Homo sapiens: one gene and its partners. The protein of the gene in region 2 purifies or fractionates together with the protein of the main gene of each other region. This does not show direct contact. Each region holds a gene or a part of one and is shown on either strand. Other genes may lie near its edges.

Region 1 (3,500 bases), on a different chromosome or scaffold from region 2:
GGGACTACAGGTGCCCACCACCAAGCCCGGCTAAATTTTTGTGTGTGTTATTTATTTTTTTTTTTTAGTAGAGACGGGGTTTCACCGTGTAAGCCAGGATGGTCTCGATTTTCTGACCTCATGATCCGCTCGCCTCAGCCTCCCAAAGTGCTGGGATTACAGGCGTGAGCCACCGTGCCCGGCCTTGATGACAAACATTTCTAGTAGTTATGAAAAAGTCCTCAGAAAACCAATAGAAGGCCAGGTGCGGTGGCTCACGCCTGTAATCCCAGCACTTTGGGAGGGCGAGGCGGGTGGATCCATGAGGTCAGGAGATCGAGACCATCCTGGCTAACACGGTGAAACCCCGTCTCTACTAAAAATACAAAAAATTAGCCGGGCATGGTGGTGGCGGGCGCCTGTAGTCTCACCTACTCGGGAGGCTGAGGCAGGAGAATGGCGTGAACCCGGGAGGTGGAGCTTGCAGTGAGCCGAGATTGCACCACTGCACTCCAGCCTGGGTGACATGAGAGAGACTCTGTCTCACAAAAGAAAAAGAAAAAAAAAAAAAAAAGAAAACCAATAGAAAGGCTGGGCGTGGTGGCTCACGCCTGTAATCCCAGCGCTTTGGGTGGTCGAGGCAGGTAGGTCGCTTGAGGCCAGGAGATCGAGACCAGCCTGGCCAACATGGAGAACATGGCCAACTCGTCTCTACTAAAAATACAAAGATTAGCTGGGCATGGTGGTGCATGCCTGTAATCCCAGCTACTGGGGAGGCTGAGGCAGGAGAATTGCTTGAGTCTGGGAGGTTGAGGCTGTGGTAAGCAGAGATCGTGCCACTGCACTCACTTCAGCCTGGATGACAGGGCAAGACCCCATCTCAAAAAAAAAAAAGAAAAAAAAAAAAACTAATAGAAAAAGGTGCTAGGTGCGATCGTCCTACATTTGACCTTGGGTCTCCAAGTTTAGCTTTCTAACACAACCGGCTCTGCCTTTCACTCATGACTCCCCTAAGAAGAATACGGCACTTGTGGCAGAGGGGAAACCTCCGAGGTGGACATCTGCTGTGTTTCAAAGGCCGATATCTATTTTCTCATTTGGCAACAGCAACCCAACCCAGTTTCTCATAAGGATCCCTCTCACCCTCAGTCCCATGGCCCTTGCCCTACAGCTGAGGGTGTGGCATGTGGCTCACATATGGCTCCTTCCTCTGGCCCAAATGGCTGGAGGAAAACTATGTCTAATTTTCCTCCAGCCACAGTTCTCAGGTCAATGAAACACAGTAACATCTCTGCCCAGGCTGCTGTTTGAGTGGCATGTGCTCTTATCCTCCTTGGCAGGAAATCCGCAGGCTGGGCTGCTGGCAGCCATCCTGCATCGTAAGAGGGAAGTCTATCTGAGGATGGGCTAACACAGAGAAAATGAAGCTGAGAGGGGTGGACAGAAAGCCCCTGGATCAAGCTGTATCTTAAGCAGCCTTATCCTGGAATTTTTCTCATAACATTTTTTTTGGTAGAGACAGGGTCTTGCTATGTTGCCCAGGCTGGTCTTGAACCCCTGGCCTCCAAGTGATCTGTCCACCTCAGCCTCCCAAAGTGCTGGGATAATAGGCATGTGTCACTGTGCCCAGCCTATCCTGGGACTTTTCAATGACTGACTTCAGCAAATAAATTCCCAGTCTCCCCCAGATCCCAAACCAGTTCAGATGGGATCTTCTGTCCTTTATAAAGGAAACATTACTAAATTGAACCTTTCCCTGTGGTTTCTCTGGAGGGGAACTAGTGTATGGGGATGACTGGCTAAAATGGAGGTGATATTACTGGTCTCAGCACTTACAAGTCCCTGATGGCTTCCTCCTAAACACTGATCACCCTTGGGGTGGAAAACTGACCTCCAGGAAAAGTGGAGGAGACAGAAGAGAGAATTACCTGCATGGGCGCTCCGCAACTGTTGCAACAGAATGCTTCCCACCTGGGCCCTGCAGCCATCCTGTGTGCCTCAGTTTGACAAGCTGGACAGGCGCAGTCAAAGAAATACTGAGACCTCAGCTTCTGCTGCCTTTCGGCAACCCCCATCCGGCTCTTGTGAGGCCCTGGAGGGAGATCACCGTCAGCCAATATTGAAAGCAAGAGAGAGTCAAACACTACGTAAAAACCTTCAGCTTAGCAGAGGGTCTGGACAATTACCTATCATGTGACAGCTAACCTTTACCCAAATATTTGTGGAACTGGATACTAAAATAAGCTTCCAAGTTGCTGAGACAGGAAGAAAGAGAAGCCAAGAAGTTGTTCCTAGCCCATTTTCAGAATAGGAAGTTTATAGTGATTAAACAGCGAGACATAGTTTAGCCGCAATAGGGCCCTAGCACGAAGGCCATTCCTTCCATCCTCCCTTCCTTGTTTTTGGCCTAAGTGTTCACTGCCTCTTCCAGGAAGCAGACAGTAGACAGGTGAAGTCACATGCCTGGTGGCTTGCTGACTTGCGTCCCCGTCCTTTTCTGTTGGAGAAGGGCAGGATGGCAGTGCGGAGGGATGGCTCACCATAGCAGTGGAGAATCTCTTGCCCCTTTCTAATCCGCTGTGACGCCCGGATGGTGGCGACAGTGCTAATGAAGGACACGCTGGTGTTGGGGCTACAGGAGTGGTTCAGGAGGCTGATAACAGGGAAGATGCCTGTGGCAAGGCGCACCTGCCTGCTGTCGGTAACGATGCTCCCTTTAGGTCCTGAAAGGGCAAGAGGAAAGAAGGAAAAAGGTGTCAGCACATGAGCCCTGGCCTTGCCCTCTGTTCCTCAGAAGATGAGCTGGGCAGCTAGGCCTGCAGCCCGTGTGAGTCATGGCTCCACAGCCAGATCCAATATAAATCAGATGGGACATGACTCACGGCAAGCTCCAGTCCCCAGGAAGCAAAGTGGATGAACGCACACAAAGTCCACTGGAGTCCTGGAACCTAACGACTGTGTCTCTACACCACGAAATAGCCAAAGATAAGAACTTATAAAGAAGTAATAAAAAAGGGATGATAAGTAGGGAGCGTTCTAGATAGTTTCATAATGTTCTCACATAGAAACCAGAGCCCCTGTTGAGGTGACTTCCCAAAGACTTTTAGAGCCCAAGGGCTTTTGTTTATCTGGTCTTTGGTTGGTTAACAGAACAAGCGACCTAGTTACTACCCCAAACTTTATATATTTAAGCAGGCCAGGCACCAGGGCTCCTGCCTGAAATCCCGAGGCTCACGCAGAAGAATTGCTTGAGCCCAGGAGTTCAAGGCCAGCCTGGACAACACAGCTAGATTTGGTCTCTAAAAAAAAAAAATTAAAATATTAGCCAGCTGTGGTGGTGCACACCTGTAGTCCCAGCTACTCAGGAGGCTGAGGTGGGAGGATCAGTTGAGCCCTAGAGAGCGAGGCTGCAGTGAGCCAGGATTGCACCACTGCACTCCAGCCTGGGTGACAGAGCAGGCCCTGTCTGAAGAAAAATAAATAAAAATTTAAAAAAAGTTTTACTCTAATTGTAACATTTA
Region 2 (3,500 bases):
AAACCATCCTGGGCAACATGGCGAAACCCCATTTCGACAAAAATTAAACAAAACAAAACAAAACAAAAAAACAGCTGGGAATGGTGGTATGTGCCTGTAGTTCCAGCTACTGGGGAACCCGAGGTGGGAGGATTGCTTGAACTGGGGAGGTGGAGGTTGCAGTGAGCTGAGATCATGCCACTGCACTCCAGGTTGGGTCACAGACTGAGATGCCATCTCAAAAAAAAAAAAAAAAAAAAAAAATTAAAGAAGATTGGAAATATGCAGAACTGGCTTATTAAGTGAGAATAGCTATATGTAATGTATAAGTACATCAAATGTAACCATGTAATACTTAAAATTGTTGTTGGACAGTGAGATGCTGGGAGTTTAAAATTATTTTAATTTTTAAATATTCATATTCTTTTTGATTTAAATGTATGCTAGCTCTGAGGATGAAGTGGATGTGCTTTTACATGGAACTCCTGACCAAAAACGAAAACTCATCAGAGAATGTCTTACCGGAGAAAGTGAATCATCTAGTGAAGATGAATTTGAAAAGGAGATGGAAGCTGAATTAAATTCTACCATGAAAACAATGGAGGACAAGTTATCCTCTCTGGGAACTGGTAAACTTTTGGTTCAATTTTATATATATTTTTGTAAGCTCTGTAAGGGCAGGAACCTTATTTGTGCTCTTCTATGTTCCCAGCACTTTCAGTAGGTGCTCAATAAATATTTATTGAATGAAGGAGTGAATGTATTTGGCAGTCTGAGCTAGAGTCTTCCTTTTCTCATTTAAAAAAGTTATTTATTTATTACTTTAGATTCAATGTCTCATTCTGTTACCCAGGCTGGAGTGCAGTGGCATGATCATAGCTCACTGTAGCCTAAAACTCCTGGGCTCAAATGATCTTCCCACCTCCGTTTCTTGAATAACTGAGATTACAGGCATGTACCACTGTGCCCAGATAATTAAAAAAAAAATTTGGGCCGGGCACGGTGGCTCACGACTGTAATCCTAGCACTTTGGGAGGCCGAGGCGGGCGGATCACGAGGTCAGGAGATTGAGACCATCCTGGCTAACACGGTGAAACCCTGTGTCTACTAAAAATACAAAAAATTAGCCGGGCGTGGTGGCAGGCGCCTGTAGTCCCAGCTACTCGGGAGGCTGAGGCAGGAGAATGGCATGAACCCAGGAGACGGAGCTTGCAGTGAGCTGAGATCACGCCACTGCACTCCAGCCTGAGCGACAGAGCGAGACTCCATCTAAAAAAAAAAAAAATCTGTAGCGACCGGGTGCAGTGGCTCACACCTGTAATCCTAGCACTTTGGGAGGCCGAGGTGGGTGGATCACCTGAGGTCAGGAGTTCGAGACCAGTCTGGCCACCATGGCGAAACCCCGTCTCTACTAAAAATACAAAAATTAGTTGGGTGTGGTGGCACGTGCCTGCAGTCCCAGCTACTTGGGAGGCCGAGGCAGGAGAATTGCTTGAACCCGGAAGGCGGAGGTTGCAGTGAGCTGAGATCGCGGCACTGCACCCCAGCCAGGGCAACAGAGTGAGACTCCGTCTCAAAAAAAAAAAAGGCCAGGCGTGGTGGCTCATGCTTGTAATCCCAGCACTTTGGGAGGCCGAGGCAGTGGATCACGAGGTCAGGAGTTTGAGACCAGCCTGGCCAATACAGTGAAACCCCATCTCTACTAAAAATACAAAAATTAGCTGGGCTTGGTGGCACGTGCCTGCAGTCCGAGCTACTCAGGAGGCCAGGCAGGAGAATCGCTTAAACCCGGGAGGCAGAGGTTGCAGTGAGCCGAGATTGTGCCATTGCACTCCAGCCTGGGTGACAGAGCTAGACTCCGTCTCAAAAAAAAAAAAAAAAATTTGTGGAGACAGGGTCTCACTATGTTGCCCAGGCTGGTCTTAAACTCCTGGCTCAAGTGATCTTCCTGCATTGGCCTCCCAAAGTGCTGGGATTATAGGTATAAACTATTGTGCCTGGCTTGGAGTTTGTTTGATGACTGTCTTGTGTTCTTGGAAAGAGATTAGTTAATACTGTTTACTTGCATAATTTTATTTTGCAGTTTTTACTCGAGTTAAAAAAAAAAGACACACAAACTTACAAAAGTATTTTTAGGGTTAGATGGCACTAAAATGTGGCAGATTTAATTATGTATCATCACAAATTTCTGTTTCACTTTAGTGAGTAATGAAACATAGTTCATTTTGATACTTGGTCTTTATGTAAAATGTACCTGACCTGAAAACTGGTTTGTGAAAGTAGGACTCTTCTGCCGGGTGCAGTGGCTCACGCCTGTAATCCCAGCACTTTGGGAGGCTGAGGTGGGTGGATCATGAGGTCAGGAGCTCAAGACCAGCCTGGCCAACATGGTGAAACCCTGTCTCTACTAAAAACACAAAAAATTAGCTGGGAGTGACGGCAGTTGCCTATAATTCCAGCTACTCGGGAAGGTCAGGCAGGGGAATCACCTGAACCCAGGTGGCAGAGGTTGCAGTGAGCCGAGATTGTGCTATTGCACTCCAGCCTGGGCAACAGAGTGAGACTCAGTCTCAAAAAAAAAAAAAAAGGAAGTAGGACTCTTCAGCATTGATTTCCACCCTGATATGCTATGTATTAGCTGGAAAAATCTGAAAGCATATAAAAATATAATAAAAACTAAAGCAGATGCTAACTAAGAGGAATTAGGGATATGGGCATATGATGACATAAGTATAGGTAATGTCATGGTCCTGGGCACAACTGAGGAGAAGAATGTGTCCTTGACTCATTCCTCCTGCCTTCCTATAGGGTTCTTACCCTTTTTCTCCTAATGTTTCTTAGAACAAAATGTTTGTTCTATGTTCTGCATGGTATACTGTATGACTGAAAGGTAGAGATATGTGTGCTGGCAACCTGAAAATATCGCTATTTTATTTAATGAGATTTGTGGGAAGGGAGAGAGAAGAATTTTCTCAAGATTTGGAACATTTTAAGGAGGGCCAGTTCTCTGTAACTGTATAGGGCATAGACATCGAGTAATTCACTGATGTGAAAATATTTCACCATCAAATGAGTTTGTGAATGAGTTGATATTGTTTTGAGGTGATGGAAGAATATATGGAGTTTTTTGCCTTGTGAATTATGTATGATTTAGTCTGTAAACTTTACTTCTGGTTTGAATAGGATCTTCCTCAGGAAATGGAAAAGTTGCAACAGCTCCGACAAGGTACTACGATGATATATATTTTGATTCTGATTCCGAGGATGAAGACAGAGCAGGTAAGTAACCTATTTACCAGGTTTAGCAGTTATATTTTATAAAAAAGGTTTACCTAACAATTATTAGATGTTAGGATTTCCCTCTGAGTTTGGTCTTTTAAGAAATTACAGCTAGGCATGGTGGCTCACACCTGTAATGGCAGCACTTTGGGAGGCTGATGCAGGCAGATCACCTGAGGTTGGGAGTTTAAGACCAGCCTGACCAACTTGGTGAAACCCCATCTGTACTAAAAATACAAAAA
Region 3 (3,500 bases), on a different chromosome or scaffold from region 2:
ACAGGCGGATCACGAGGTCAGGAGATCAAGACCATCCTGGCTAACACGGTGAAACCCCGTCTCTACTAAACAAAATACAAAAAATTAGCCGGGTGTGGTGGCGGGTGCCTGTAGTCCCAGCTACTCGGGAGGCTGAGGCAGGAGAATGGCGTGAACCCAGGAGGCAGAGCTTGCAGTGAGCTGAGATTGCGCCACTGCACTCCAGCCTGGGCGACAGAGCAAGACTCCGTCTCAAAAAAAAAAAAAAAAAAAAAAAAAGTAAAGCCTCTATTGCCTCAAAAGCTCAGTATCCATGGTGCTGGGTCTGCAGCTTTCCACAGTAACTCTCAGGCACACTGCAGTAAAGAACTGTGAGTGACTGAACTAAAATTAAACTTCTGCTACCTTAAAACCTGGTCGCGGATTCACCCATGATAAAGATTAAATAGGGAGGGAGAGCATCAGGAAGAATAGCTAATGCATGCTGGGCTTAATACCTAGGTGATGGGTTGATCTGTGCAGCAAACCTCCATGACACACATTTACCTGTGTAACAAACCTGCACATCCTGCACATGTACCCTGGAACTTAAAAGTTGAAGGAAAAAAAAGATTAAATAAAACATTTATATCAGCATGTGCGAGGCTGCAGGTAAGAGGGAAGGAAGTCTCATTCTTTTTTTGAGTAGCATCATCTAGAAGGAAACATATCTCATGTAGCAAGAAGTCTAGATGTGCTGAGACCCCAGGCTCTCTCTTCTCAGTCTTCTGTTGGCAGCTTGTCCTTATACTACCTCTCCTCATGATTGCAAAATGGCTGTAGTAGTTCCAGGTGGCACATCCAGGATGACGTTGTTCAAGAGAACTTTCCTCTTGGTCCCTTTTCTTTTCTTTTTTTTTTTTCCTGAGACGGAGTTTTGCTCTGTTGCCCAGGCTGGAGTGCAGTGGCGCTATCTCGGCTCACTGCAACCTCTGCTTGCCAGGTTCAAGTGATTCTCCTGCCTCAGCTTCCCCCGAGTAGCTGGGATTACAGGCGTGTGCACCACCATGCCTGGCTAATTTTTGTATTTTTAGTAGAGACGGGGTTTCACCATATTGGCCAGGCTGGTCTCGGACTCCTGACCTCAGGTGATCCACCCACCTCGGCCTCCCAAAGTGCTGGGATTACAGGTGTGAGCCACCGCACCCGGCAGTCTCTTTTCTTAAAAGCAAAGTAGCCTTTCATATGAGTCCTACCATGAATTTTCTCTACATTTGCTTGCACAAATTGTTTTACATGCCCATTCCTAACGCAGTCCCTGGCAAGGAAAGTGGGATCAAAATGACTGGCTTAGATAAGACACAAAGCCCCACTTCATAATCCTGCCTCCCCAACACTGGGAGTACCACTCCTGCAATGTGTGGCGGTGCAGAGGAAGGCAGGTGCCTAGACAACGTCAGGACTCTGCAAGGAAAGAGGAAACGTGCCAATGGTTGGACAGGCAGCCAGCAACATCTGCTCCAGTAAAGGCAAAGGCACCTGACTCTAGGCCTGGCACTCACACTTGTGAATGCTTGCTGGCTGGAACTCCAGGCTTTGTCTCTTTCACGCTGACCTTTGAGATACTGTCGAGAAGAACACGGCCATTACTTCCTGTCTTCCCAGCTTGGTCATGCTCGGGGTGGCCCTAATGAGCAGCGACTATCATGCCCTGCCCTTGGCCACTGGCTTTACCTTGTGTGAGGATGAGGTTCTAAAGTCAGTGTGAGGCGGGGCACGGTGGCTCATGCCTGTAATCCCAGCACTTTGGGAGGCTGAGGCGGGTGGATCACCTGAGGTCAGGAGTTCGAGACCAGCCTGACCAACATAGTGAAACCCCATCTATACTAAAAACAAACAGCTAGCCAGGCATGGTGGTGTGTGCCTGTAATCCCAGCTACTTGGGAGGCTGAGGCAGGAGAATCACTTGAACCCGGGAGGCGGAGGTTGCAGTGAGCCCAGATTGCACCACTGCACTCCGGCCTGGGCAACAAGAGAGAAACTCTGTCTCAAAAAAATAAATAAATAAAAAATAAAGTCAGTGTGTATGTCTGTCACTCTGCTGATCCAGAACTAAATTTTGTAGTTTTAACTTTTTTTTTTTAACAGAAATAAAACTATGTGATGTATTGTGTATAGTCACTTTCCAAATAATGTAATTCTGTTTGAATTTTTTTGAAGGATCTTAGTGAATTTGGGATAGCACCTAAAGCGATTGTCACCACAGACGATTTTGCCTCCAAAACCAAAGACAGAATACGAGAAAAGGCTAGGCAGTTGGCCGCTGCTACTGCCCCTATTCCTGGAGCCACCCTCCTTGATGACCTCATAACGCCAGCAAAGTGAGCATTTCCTTCTGACTGTCATGATCTTAGCACCGGTGTTTTGCATATGTGTGATTCTCTTGCTGAGGGATAGTTTGATTGCAAGTGAGACAAGCCTTCTTAGGCTCAAAGTCTAAGTGAAAAAGGGGGTTTTGCGTAAAGGATCTTGCACTGTCATTGCACGGAGAGATTAAGAACTCCAGCCACTAGCTGTGCTGCTGGGGCTCTCAGAGGCTGGAGAGCTGTTAGGAATTACAGTGACTTCTCCCACCACCCCTCCAGACCTTATAGCCTCGCCTCTGTCTGCCTCCTTCTACCCTCACTTTCTGTGTATCTCCTTGTGCTCCTGGGCTTGTGGCCTGATATGGCAGCCTTAGACCTTCAGGGATTCCCAGGCCACATGCTTAGCAAAGACTGTCTAGAGTCCCTGTGATCCCATCGTAAAGGCCCAGGAGAAAGGTCATCTGATTGACTTCCCCAGTTCAGGTGTGCACCCCAGTGCAGCCTGCTGTGGCTGGAATGGCAGGGTCACGCCAGATGTAATGTGGGTGAGGGCAAGGGCCCAGGCAAGACAGGCCTAGGAACTGAGCAGGAACTCAGAAGCCGCTTATTTCATATTCTTTGTTAATGTTATTTTGAAAAGTTCATTTTCAATGCCTTGCTATCCTAGATTATCTGTTGGTTTCGAATTGCTAAGAAAAATGGGTTGGAAAGAAGGACAAGGAGTTGGTCCTCGAGTAAAGAGACGGCCACGCCGACAGAAACCTGGTGTGTATGTTAATTGATTAACTGTTATCACTGCTGCAGCGTACTTTTTTTTTTTTTTTGAGACAGGGTCTTGCTCTGTCGCCCAGGCTGGAGTGCAGTGGTGCGATCCCGGCATACTGCAGCCTTGACCTCCCGGGCTCAAGTGATCCTTCCACGTTAGCCCCGCAAGTAGCTGGGACCACAGGCATGTGCCACTGCGCCAGGCTAATTTTTTGTATTTTTTGTAGAGACGGGGTTTTGCCATGTTGCCCAGGCCCAGGCTGAGGATTGCCTGAGCAAATTCCAATAAACGAAATAGCTGGGCCCAGTGGTATGTGTGTCTTCTAAGGCTTTTTATGTGTAATGCATGACAGCTTCCAGAAAGGCTGTGCTAGTTTATGCTTCTGCCAGCAGCATGTGAGAGTTCATGTT
Region 4 (3,500 bases), on a different chromosome or scaffold from region 2:
GTGCTCCACATGGCTGCCTGCCCCAGTACCAAAGCCGCCTTCTCTTCTGCAGCTGAGGCCTGCTTTTTTCACTGACTCAAGACACTGGACAATCAGTCCTAACTCAGTCATCCCTCAGTCCAGGAAGTACTTACATTTCCTTCTTTTTTGAAAAATCAAGTTCACAACTATGCTAGGAAGTACAGAAAAACAGGGAAGATGTGATTACCTGCTGGCTGGAAGAGACAGGCATAAGATGCAAGGGAGCCTGGTATGGGGAGAATTATGCTACGAAAAGGGGTAAGCCAAAGCCCAGCACCATTTTGCAACCCTAAATATGGATCTAGGCAATGGCCATCAACAGACGCTAAAACCTCAAGATGGAGGAGCAGTGGAAACCTATCAGGGAAGAGGCAGGCTGCCACCACTGGGGCCCCTCATCCATCCTCCCATCAGCAAAGGTGGGGCCACCAGACCTCACATGCCTCCTGAAGGCATCTAAGAGGAGGTTCACAGTGCCACATGCAGGCATCTCTGCCACACGCAGCTCAGCCGGGATCTAATTGAGCGGTTGGACTCATCGCCAGCTTACAGCAAGTGCACGAAACACAGGCACAGGTTAAACACCGCTGTGAGCAAGCAATGAGGCAAATACATCATATGGACTATTCGACAGGACAAATGACCTGGCTGCTCCAATAAATCAATGTCATGAAAAAAAGCGTGGGGTGGAGCCTGTTCTAGAATGAAACAGTTAACACACATAAGCAGTTGCAATGCCTGGATCCTAATTCAAGCAAATCGATCATAAGAAGTTATCTTTGAGATAAATGGAGAAATCCAAATGCGGACTGGAGACTTAGGTGACATTAAGTATTCATTTTTTTATGAGTGATAACGGCACAGAGGTTATATTTAAAATTTTAAGTCCTTTTAGTCAGAGACACATACTCAAGTATTTATGGATGAATAATGTATGAGATAAGCTTTAAAATATTCCAGAAAAAAAAAATGGATGTGTGTGGAGTGGGGTAGGAATAGTGAAATTGAACAAACGTTGACAATTATAGAGGCAAGGCAACGAATTCATGGTGGCCTGTTGTACTGTTTTTCCCACTTTCATGAATATTTGGACTTTTCAATAATGAGTTTTTTGGTTTTGTTTTTAAAGGCTCAGCCTACCAAACAACTGGAGTGGGTGGTGGGGAATCAGACAGACCCAGCCTGCTGGATCACAGCCTTTATGTTTGCAGAGAGAAGTAAGTGGGTTGGATGACCGCAAGTCTTCAATACCAAGCGGAGGGAACACCGACCCCACAGGCAAACAGCACCCCTGCGAAGAGCACAGAATCCTCACCTGCCGTGACTTGCCCGCCTGTTTCACGCTATAGAACATGGGGCCCAGCTCCGCCAGCCACTCCCCGTCCACAGCGGTCACACACTGCATATACTCCTGCGGGCAGAAGGGCAGGGAGGCGAGGGTCACAGGAGGGCCAATGTCCCTCCCAGAGTGGTTCCACAATTAGGAGCCACATGGGAAGGGCCCAATCCCTGGCCCTGCAAGGCTGAAAAAAGGAAAGGAAAAACCCCAGATACTCCCATCCAAACTCCTCCACACTTGAGAAAATGCCCCCAGTATCTAAAAGAAAAGGCCCAACCCCTCCGAAAATCCTTCTAATGACACCAAGAGGGGTTGCTCATCCCAAGCAGCAAGTGGGGAACAATCGTGCCCATGCAGCTGAGGTCAATGCAGTCTAGAGGTCAACCCTGTGCAGAGCTTCCCCAAGTCCCCAAATGAAAACCAACCTCACATGCCCCGCAAAACAATGCATGTGGCCTCAAGGCTCCCAGGCTAAAAGCTCATGCCAGAACGCAGTGAAGGGTTTCAAAGCCTGGCCAGACAGGGGGCCTGCATTATGCAAGTGCCTTGGAAAAGACTCACCTTGGTGGTCATGACCAACTCGTGATACACTATGTAATCTGGGGTGTAGCCCATTCCAAAAAGGGAGCTGGTGGGGTGCAAGTGGCAGGGCATCCCTGTGCGGATGTTCACGTACTCCCCGATTCCCTAGGGAGGAGACACAACAGGCAGCCACATCAGGAAAACAACACCCATTTGGGCAGCGACCCCATCCCTTAACACTCTTGACACAGCCTTTGGCGGAAGCCCAGATCTGCAGAACCACACCAGGACAAAGGAAGAACTTTGCCCTTATACAGGTATCAGGCTGGGAGGGGCTCACTGGGCTCCTGGGTTCACCTTGAGCTTGGCTGCTTGGTGGAAATAGGCAGCACAGATGCACTTCCTGACGATGTCCCAGTCAGTGCCACACGAGGCCAGGCTCATCCGCTGCTGCACCATGATGTCCTTGAGTTGAGCTCGCACCTCCCGGACCTAGGGCAGGAGACGGAGGCACCAGGAGGGAGCCCTCCTTTCCTCTCGACCCTCCCCTCATCCCAACATCCTGCTCATCCACCACTCTACCTTCCGCATGGCCTTAGCATGGATGAAATGATCGTTACACCAGATGGTGGAGTAATTATTGTTCTTCCACTGCAGGTAAACATTCAGGTAGGTCAAATGATCGCTCTCAGGAACAGCGAACTTCTCCCGGATTTGATCACTCTCCTCCTCTCGACCCTAGGAAGGGAAAAAGAACCTTCACTCTAAGTACAGGGGGGTCCAGGCCCACTGAGCACATCCCAGAGGTTCTAACACTACCACCTACCCACACATAGAACTTCAAACATGTCAATAGGTTGCCCTGACAATTTGAGAAAAATTAAAATAATTTTTAAAAAGGTCTACTCTAAAACATGAGGGCTCAAGAGCAACCATACTAGAAGATAAAAAATGCTCTTGCAAATTTCCAAAGCATTCCCTGAGAACCACTGGCCCAGCCCTTCCTTTCCCCTACCCCAACCTGCTTAACCGAGAACAGCAAAATCATTCTTCAGAAACTCTGATTCTGCCCTCTGTTCCATTTCAGTAATACAGAGAGAAGCCATTCCCCTCCCCAACACTTCCTCGAGCCCTCCGGGGAGAGGGGAGCCAGCCGCTGCCCCACCTTGGGCCTGTAGAAGATGGCTGGGACCGAGAGCATGGAAACGATGAGCAGGATCTCGGAGCTGCAGCCCATGTCACAGGACACGATGAGCATCTTGGACAGGGCAGGGTCCAGCGGGAACTCCACCATCAGCCGCCCGGTAGAGGTCAGACCACCTAGGAGAGATGAGCAAACCCGGATATTTGACGGGACAGTAGAGGAAAGAAGGAAGTCAAGCGCCAGCACCCATGAGGCTCCCGGGGCCGCCTCACCTGTGTTGTCCAGGGCCCCGAGGATCCAGAGCTGATACATAGAGTTGAGCATGTTGTCCTCCGGGGGCGGGTCCATGAAGTGGAACTGCAGCAGGTCCTGCACCCCGAGGGACTTGAGCAGCAGCACCACGTTGGCCAGGTTAGTCCTCTGGATCTCGGGCACTGTGGTGGTCAGGAGCTCATTCTTGTAGGCGCTCTGGGT

Evidence for each region. The genes of interacting proteins can lie anywhere in the genome.
Region 1: the proteins of EAPP (region 2) and SMYD4 purify together in Homo sapiens (affinity purification with mass spectrometry, with the first as the bait; one large-scale study listed by BioGRID). This does not show direct contact.
Region 3: the proteins of EAPP (region 2) and GPATCH1 purify together in Homo sapiens (affinity purification with mass spectrometry; 3 studies listed by BioGRID and IntAct, with this or other methods). This does not show direct contact.
Region 4: the proteins of EAPP (region 2) and DHX38 purify together in Homo sapiens (affinity purification with mass spectrometry, with the first as the bait; one large-scale study listed by BioGRID). This does not show direct contact.

The regions. Positions count from the first base shown.
Region 1 is NC_000017.11:1,784,903-1,788,402, forward strand, and holds part of SMYD4 (protein-lysine N-methyltransferase SMYD4), read right to left. Parts: intron 2,703-3,500; coding exon 2,520-2,702; intron 2,072-2,519; coding exon 1,908-2,071; intron 1-1,907. UniProt on the Homo sapiens protein: Protein-lysine N-methyltransferase. Monomethylates PRMT5, modulating its transcriptional activity. May also act as a histone methyltransferase. Plays a critical role in cardiac development.
Region 2 is NC_000014.9:34,533,202-34,536,701, reverse strand, and holds part of EAPP (E2F-associated phosphoprotein), read left to right. Parts: intron 1-426; coding exon 427-608; intron 609-3,162; coding exon 3,163-3,258; intron 3,259-3,500. UniProt on the Homo sapiens protein: May play an important role in the fine-tuning of both major E2F1 activities, the regulation of the cell-cycle and the induction of apoptosis. Promotes S-phase entry, and inhibits p14(ARP) expression.
Region 3 is NC_000019.10:33,091,181-33,094,680, forward strand, and holds part of GPATCH1 (G patch domain-containing protein 1), read left to right. Parts: intron 1-2,178; coding exon 2,179-2,339; intron 2,340-2,991; coding exon 2,992-3,089; intron 3,090-3,500.
Region 4 is NC_000016.10:72,107,347-72,110,846, reverse strand, and holds part of DHX38 (pre-mRNA-splicing factor ATP-dependent RNA helicase PRP16), read right to left. Parts: coding exon 3,299-3,500; intron 3,203-3,298; coding exon 3,048-3,202; intron 2,621-3,047; coding exon 2,465-2,620; intron 2,375-2,464; coding exon 2,240-2,374; intron 2,048-2,239; coding exon 1,922-2,047; intron 1,433-1,921; coding exon 1,337-1,432; intron 1-1,336. UniProt on the Homo sapiens protein: Probable ATP-binding RNA helicase. Involved in pre-mRNA splicing as component of the spliceosome.